2 linked regions of the Homo sapiens genome follow. The protein of the gene in region 1 interacts with the protein of each later gene in a pairwise test. Each region holds a gene or a part of one and is shown on either strand. Other genes may lie near its edges.

Region 1 (3,529 bases):
TCTTCATTTTTTACAGGCAATATTTATGTATATAATGTTACACAAATTTCATTTTTGTGATTGCAAAAAAAAACCAAGTATGATAATAGAGCTAGTTTCAAACAAGATTTCATCAGATAAAATTAAGACAAGCTAGACATGCATCAAGATAAAGATTCTCTATTTCTGTTTCATTAAGGAATTACTTTTTCATTAGTATATTTTTCCCACTCTAAATTTTAAATCTTTTTAAAGCTTTTAACTAGTTTTCAACTTTGCTGTCAAGTTTGAACTCTGCTGTATATCAAAAGTTGATCATATTAAATGTCATATACTGTAGAGTAAAATTGGCTTTTGAAATAATATAGACATTTGACAATTATCAGCACAGTATATTTTATGAGGGAATAATGTAGAATTAACTGTTTTATTCAAATACCATTTATGGTATGAAAGTAACATTATTTTAGGTGATGTTTACAAACTACTACTTTATTTGTTTAAAAGTAAACATGCTTCTGATGAATGGCATGAAAATTTACCATTGCCAAATTCAAAAAGCAGAAATAAGAGAGCCCAAGGAATCAGATGCTAAGCTCTGGGATAAAGAGATGATGTCTAAAAGGTGCCCCTACTTGTCCCTATTTCAACACTATGTGAATGGTAGGAATTGCATGATACTAGACCTAATCTCTATTACACTAATGAGAGATGACAAAAAAATCCATTTTAGAGCCATCATTTAGTAACACTAGTTTTAACACAGACTTTTATCTTGGTAGTCAAGAAATATTTGGAAAGTTATTTAGTATGTTTAATTCAGCAAAGTATGCGCTGCAAATTACAAACATTGTGGTAGTCTATAAGAGCAGCAACAATCAAACCTAAGCCGGAAAAACACACTGTATTGCTATATTATTCAAAGAAATTGTTGCTATACTTCATTACTGTCTATTACTAAATCCATACTACTGCACTTTTCTTTGAGACAGGTTCTCACTCTGTCACCAAGGCTGGAGTGCAGTTGCGTGATCTCAGCTCACTGCAACCTCCGCCTCCTGAGTTCAAGCAATTCTTGTGCCTCAGCCTCCCAAGTAGTTGGGATTACAGGCACACATCACCACACCTGGCTAATTTTTGTATTTTTAGTAGAGACAGGGTTTCACCAAGTTGGCCAGGCTAGTCTCGAACTCCTGACCTCAGGTGATCCGCCTGTCTCAGCCTCCCAAAGCACTGGAATTACAGGTGTGAGCCACTATGCCCAGCCTGCACTTTTCTTCTTAATAAAGCCGTGACTCATAATTGAAATATTTTGAGATTAAAAAAGGCAATAAAAGCTAATTAGATCCACTCATCTAGAACCAGTGGCAAGAAAAAAGTTTTTAACCTACTGTGATTTCTATCTTAAAATTCTCTGAGCTTCATTTTTCTTCAAAATTCTAGTAAGTAAAATGAGATAAAGAAAAAAAAGAAAAAATGGACTCTACAGCCATGGGACTTTTAGGTGGAAAAAGTCTGTCAGTCTCTAAGTGACAGAACTATGAGCAACTTTTATTTTCTTTTGTGCTTTTCCACATTTTCTGGATTTTCTGTAATACATGTGCATTACATTTCTAATTTGAAAACAATGTAAAGTCTGTCTTAACTACCCTGTTTACCTTCTCATACCACCAACCCCCAAACCACCCTAAAATTTTAATCCTCCCAACTCAGACCTTCCACTTTCCAGTGTCACTGCAAAATTAGATGCCGTCTTCTCATTTTCCATTAAATGAGTAAACTACCAGTGTGCTATATGGAAGAATGATGTAACTACTATAGAAATCCCTTTTGTACTTTTAAAGAGAATATTTTTGGGAGAAGGGATTAGAAATGTAAATTAAAGAAAACTACGTAATTTCATATGTCAAAGATTATAATGAACTTCTCTTAAAATAACCTAGACATCCCTCCTCCTACGTGACAAATGGAGCATTCTCATCAATGTATTGCGCACCTACTAAGTGTCAAACACAGAGCTAGGTTACATGTGAGTATAAAATTTTAAAGCAAAGCACAGTCTACAGAGTAATGTTAAATCTTTTGGGAAGTTTTGGGCAAGCATGTGACACCTTTCATTAGAAACAGTAATTCTTAATGAAGAAACCCTGTAAAAAGATTATTTGTACTATTATTCTTTGTGAAATATTAGACTGTATCTACAATAATAAAACACTGCTAAATTATAGACTACCAAGTGGAATGTAGAAATCATTTTTCCTTGTTACAGACGGAGCTAACAAGTAGTGTAAAGTTAATGTTGGTTAATTACGTTTTTGGCCAATTTGTAGAAAGTTCATACAACTATAACATTAGATGCAAAACATTTATAGTTCCCCAGAACTGTGGCAATTTAAATAATGGTGTAGTGGCGCCGGGCATGGTGGCTCACACCTGTAATCCCAGCACTTTGGGAGGCCGAGGCAAGCGAATCACGAGGTCAGGAGTTCAAGACCAGCCTGGCCAACATAATGAAACCCCGTCTCTACTAAAAATACAAAAAATTAGCCGGGTGTGGTGGCAGGTGCCTGTAATCCCAGCTACTTGGGAGGCTGAGGCAGGAGAATCGCTTGAACCTGGGAGGTGGAGATTGCAGTGAGCAGAGATCACACCACTGCACTCTAGCCTGGGTGACAGTGCGAGACTCCGTCTCCAGAAAAAAAAAAAAGAATAGTGTAGTGGGAAACATACAGACCTGGGTTCAAACTCAGACACACAATGTAACCATGAGCAATTTCCTTAACATTCTTGAACTTGTTTCCTGATCCACAACATGGAAATAACACCTACCTTATTGGATTGTTGTGAAGATCAAATAAGGTGTATAGGACACTAAGTACAATGTCTGATATATAGCAAATAATTTTTAAAATGTTATTTGTAGTCTCTTATAATTATCTTCTAGTACAATTATCTATACTCTCTTCTGGAAAGCAAAAACCTATCTTGTCATCTTTATATCCTCCAATATAGCTTTGGTAGATACTACATAACTGTTTGGTGAAATTAACCCCTGTAATTTAAGGGTAACTATCTCAACTTTCCACTTGAGCAAGTTACCTCTATCTAAATAAAATCTGCTGAGAATGGAATTTAAGATTCCCAGACCAACACTTTATTGGGCATTTTGATGAAGAAAATGAATCTCCAATAATCAACAAGGTAGCTTTGTTAGTACACTGCTCAATATTTGGTCTGCATTCTACAAAATTACCATTGTAGCCAACACTTTCATTCTGAGATTCTTTACAGTTTTCATTAATCCAGGTTTCTTGGAAATAGACTTTAGTTTCTTTGGCATTGCAAAAATGTCTGTTTTCTGCTATACTTCAAATAAAAAAAGAGAATACAACACAACAAATTAGTTATGAGATAAAAATTAGAAATTGGCCATTTTAAACAGCCGATTTTTATTTTTACTACAGTAAATATTCTTCCTTATACCTTGAAACCTCTAGCCACCAAAGTTTACATAGTTTATTAATGCTTCCTTGTTGAATAAGCCTCCTGA
Region 2 (3,529 bases), on another chromosome or scaffold:
TGGGCTGAGGCTGAGGTGGCAGGGGAACTGAGAGCAAGGACGGAGCTCAAGGAGCTGTGTGGAGGCCCAGCTTCCAGGGCAGTCCAAAGCAGCCCTCTCTGCTGCTAGAAAGGATGCTAAGCATGTGACGTGGATTAAAAAAGATGGTGGCAGGAATCATTATCAGTGGTGCTTACAGAAGTTTGTTCTAAACCAACCATTCATTATCTATTGCATTAGCAAAACTGATTTTTTTTTTTTTTTTTTGGAGACGGAGTCTCGCTCTGTTGCCCAAGCTGGATGGAGTGCAGTGTTGCGACCTCGGCTCACTGCAACCTCCGCCTCCCAGGTTCATGCGATTCTCCTGCCTCAGCCTCCTGAGTAGCTGGGACTACAGACACACGCCACCATGCCCAGCTAATTTTTTTTTTTTGTATTTTTAATAGAGATGAGGTTTCACCATGCTGGCCAGGCTGGTCTGGAATTCTTGACCTCGTGATCTGCTCACCTCAGCCTCCCAAAGTGCTGGGATTACAGGAATGAGCCACCGCGCCTGGCCAGCAAAATTGATTTTATTTTCTATTTTGAGACTGGCTCTCACTTTGTTGCCTAGGCTAGAGTTCAGTGGCACGATGTCAGCTCACTGCAGCCTGTATCTCCCAGGCTCAAGCGATCCTGTCCCACTTCAGCCCCCGCAACCTAAGTAGCTGGAACTAGAGGCATGCACATTATGCCCCACTAGTTTTTAAATTTTTTGTAGAGACAGAGTCTCATTATGTTGCCCTTGCTAGTCTCCAACTCCTGGGCTCAAGCAATCTTTCTGCCTCGGCCTCCCAAAGGGCTGGGATTATAGGCATGAGCTGGGCACCAGGCCACAAAATTGATTTTAGAAAAATTAAAATAGTGTGCTTGTGAATATGGGAAACCAGCACTCATTGGTGGTTACATCAGTTTGGAGACCCCTTTGGATAGCAGTTTTTCAATGTGTATTAAGAACCCTCAAAGAGAACAAAAAACACCTAAACAGCCTTTAACTAGTAACTTTTTTCATTCTGAGAACTTGATTCCAACAAGAAAAATCCAAAAGAGGAAAAAGGCTTTAAGAAAAGACATCTTTAGAGACACTGTTGGTAATGTTAAAATGTCCGAATAACCCAAATGCTCAGCAACTAGAGAACAGTAACATGAATTGCGGTCGATGTTCTCCAGCCTTTGAAGCTAGAGGCTAAGAACACCACAAGAGAACACAAATATGCTGAGGAGGCAACGCTAAGTGAAAACCGGCGGGTGGCAGACTGCAGACACTGTCAACCCGGCATGTGCCAGACACAGGAGACTTTCCAATAGGAAGATAGAAATGCATGATAAACACAGATCTGATTTCTAACATAAAAATATACCTCTATCTTCTCCAAAGAATTCTCTTTCAAATATATGTTAGTATAACCTTTCTTAGTACTTAAGAGTTACTTCTAGGAATCTCCCTGAAGGACATGATTTCTCATTCAAACAGATTTAGGTGCAGGGATGCTTATTACAGTCTCATTCATTATGGTTAAACAACTGGAAATGCCTAGATATCCAGGAATAGGGGAATGATAAAGTATGCTTGAGCTATACAGTAAGACATTATATGACTATTGAAAAGTTTCTTGAAGAATTTTAACTGGGGAAATGATCATGACATAATGTTAAAAAATTACTACTACACGAAAGGTATATCAAATATCTAAGTATGTTATTTATATACAGAAACATGGTGAAAATATACCACAGTGGTAGAAGTTTAGGTTGTGAAGACATTTTTTTCCTTATACATTTCTGAATTGTTCCAAGTTAAAACAAAACAAAACACAAAACAAAAAAACCCCACATACTATTTTTTTTTTTTTTTTTAAAGCTCTGTCACCCAGGCTGGAGTGCAGTGGCATGATCAATGCTCACAGCAACCCTAAACTCCTGGGTTCAGGCAATCCTCCTGCCTCAGCCTCCTGAGTAGCTAGGACTACAGTTGCATGCCACCATGCCTGGCTAATTTTCAAAATTTTTTGTAGAGAGGGGGGTCTTGCCATGTTGCCCAGGCTGGTCTCAAACTCCTAGGCTCAAGTGATCTTCCTGCCTAGGACTCCCAAAGCGCTAGGAGTATAGGTGTGAGCCACTGTGCCAGGCCAAAACACATACTTCTTTACAATTGAAAAATAATGAAAGGAAAGACATAGTCTACTTTTTAATTGCCACCTCAAAGTTAACCCCAAATTTTCCAAAATTCTAAGTTCAAGTGGGTAGCGAGTTTGCCCTTCATGCAGCACACTTACCTGTGAGTGCTAGGGAGTGGCTGAGAGCTCGGGGGTGGGAGGAGAGGCCCACTGCAGTGCCCACCACAGTGCCCGCTGCAGGGGTGGCTGCACCCCGAGAATGGTGGGGGCATCTTCAGGAGCGGCATGCTGGTGGAGGGTAGATGGGAGCTCTGACATGGCCCTGGAGTGTGGGGGGCAGTGGCAGCAGCAACAGGGCACTCTGAAGCCTGGGCAGGGAAAGGTGCTGCCGGGGTGGTGGGCAGCAGGTGTGGGTGGGGTGGGGAGCCAAAGGAGCTGGGGTGAGACGGGATTAGAGATGCTGGCTGCGGGTGGTGGCCGGTGGGGCTGTTAGGGGGAGCAGTGAGGTCTGAGTGCTGGTGGTGCTCCGAGACGGGGAAAGCCTCACCTGTGGGCAGAGGGAGGAGAAAGGGGTCAGAATGGGAGCCCAGACCTGGGAAGGAAAGCCCACAGGCTCACTGCCACAGCATCCTGCTTCTGTGACAAGAGGGCACAGCCTCTCAGCACAGGGGACCCTGGAGCTGCAGAAGATTCTGTGTGGGCAGCAACACAGCTGAGCAGGCTCAAGGAGCCCAGGCCCAAGCAAGAAGGTACTAGGAATGCTGATTCCACACAAGGCCCCATGCCTTTTCTGCAGCATGAGCAGAAGATATGCATTCTGTCTCTGAGGGTCTCTCTAGGATCTGCTTGTACACAGGTGCTCCTCAGGCCTGGAGGATGATCTGCAGAAGCCAGTGGAGCAGCAGGCCCAGGCTCTGCCTCTGTGCCACGTGTACCACAGCAGCAGGGCATGCCAGACCCCTGAGGGCCCCAGATTTCAGACAAGTGGGAAAAAGGTTCTGATGACTCTCTAGCTTATGTACCAAAATTAATGGAATTATATACTGCTCAACACTCATAATTCTGGGAGCAGACCCACTTTGAAGAACTCAGCTCCTTCATTTAGAAGTATGACAGTAAATCATATTTACATAATAAACCAATAACCCAAGAGTTTTGTCTCTGGGTCTCTGAGAGTTATTTCAGGGTCAAAGAAGACTTACACAGCTGCTAAATTAGCTAATAACTATTACGGCTTACACTGCCAATCTCTTGGGCATTTAAATTCAGTGCTTTTATACCCATCCCTTAGGTGGGGAAATCAAGGCCTAGGAAGACAAGGTTGCCCAGGTCCTCTGTGGTGCTGCAGGGGTCAGGTGATCTAAGTCCTATGACTCCACTTTCTACTCAGACAG

The links. Proteins that work in one complex are often made in the same cells at the same time.
Region 2: the proteins of PKN2 (region 1) and FAM193B interact in a two-hybrid assay, tested with the Homo sapiens proteins (one large-scale study listed by BioGRID and IntAct).

The regions. Positions count from the first base shown.
Region 1 is NC_000001.11:88,687,246-88,690,774, reverse strand, and holds part of PKN2 (serine/threonine-protein kinase N2), read right to left. Parts: intron 1-3,529. UniProt on the Homo sapiens protein: PKC-related serine/threonine-protein kinase and Rho/Rac effector protein that participates in specific signal transduction responses in the cell.
Region 2 is NC_000005.10:177,534,064-177,537,592, forward strand, and holds part of FAM193B (protein FAM193B), read right to left. Parts: intron 2,683-3,529; coding exon 2,295-2,682; intron 1-2,294.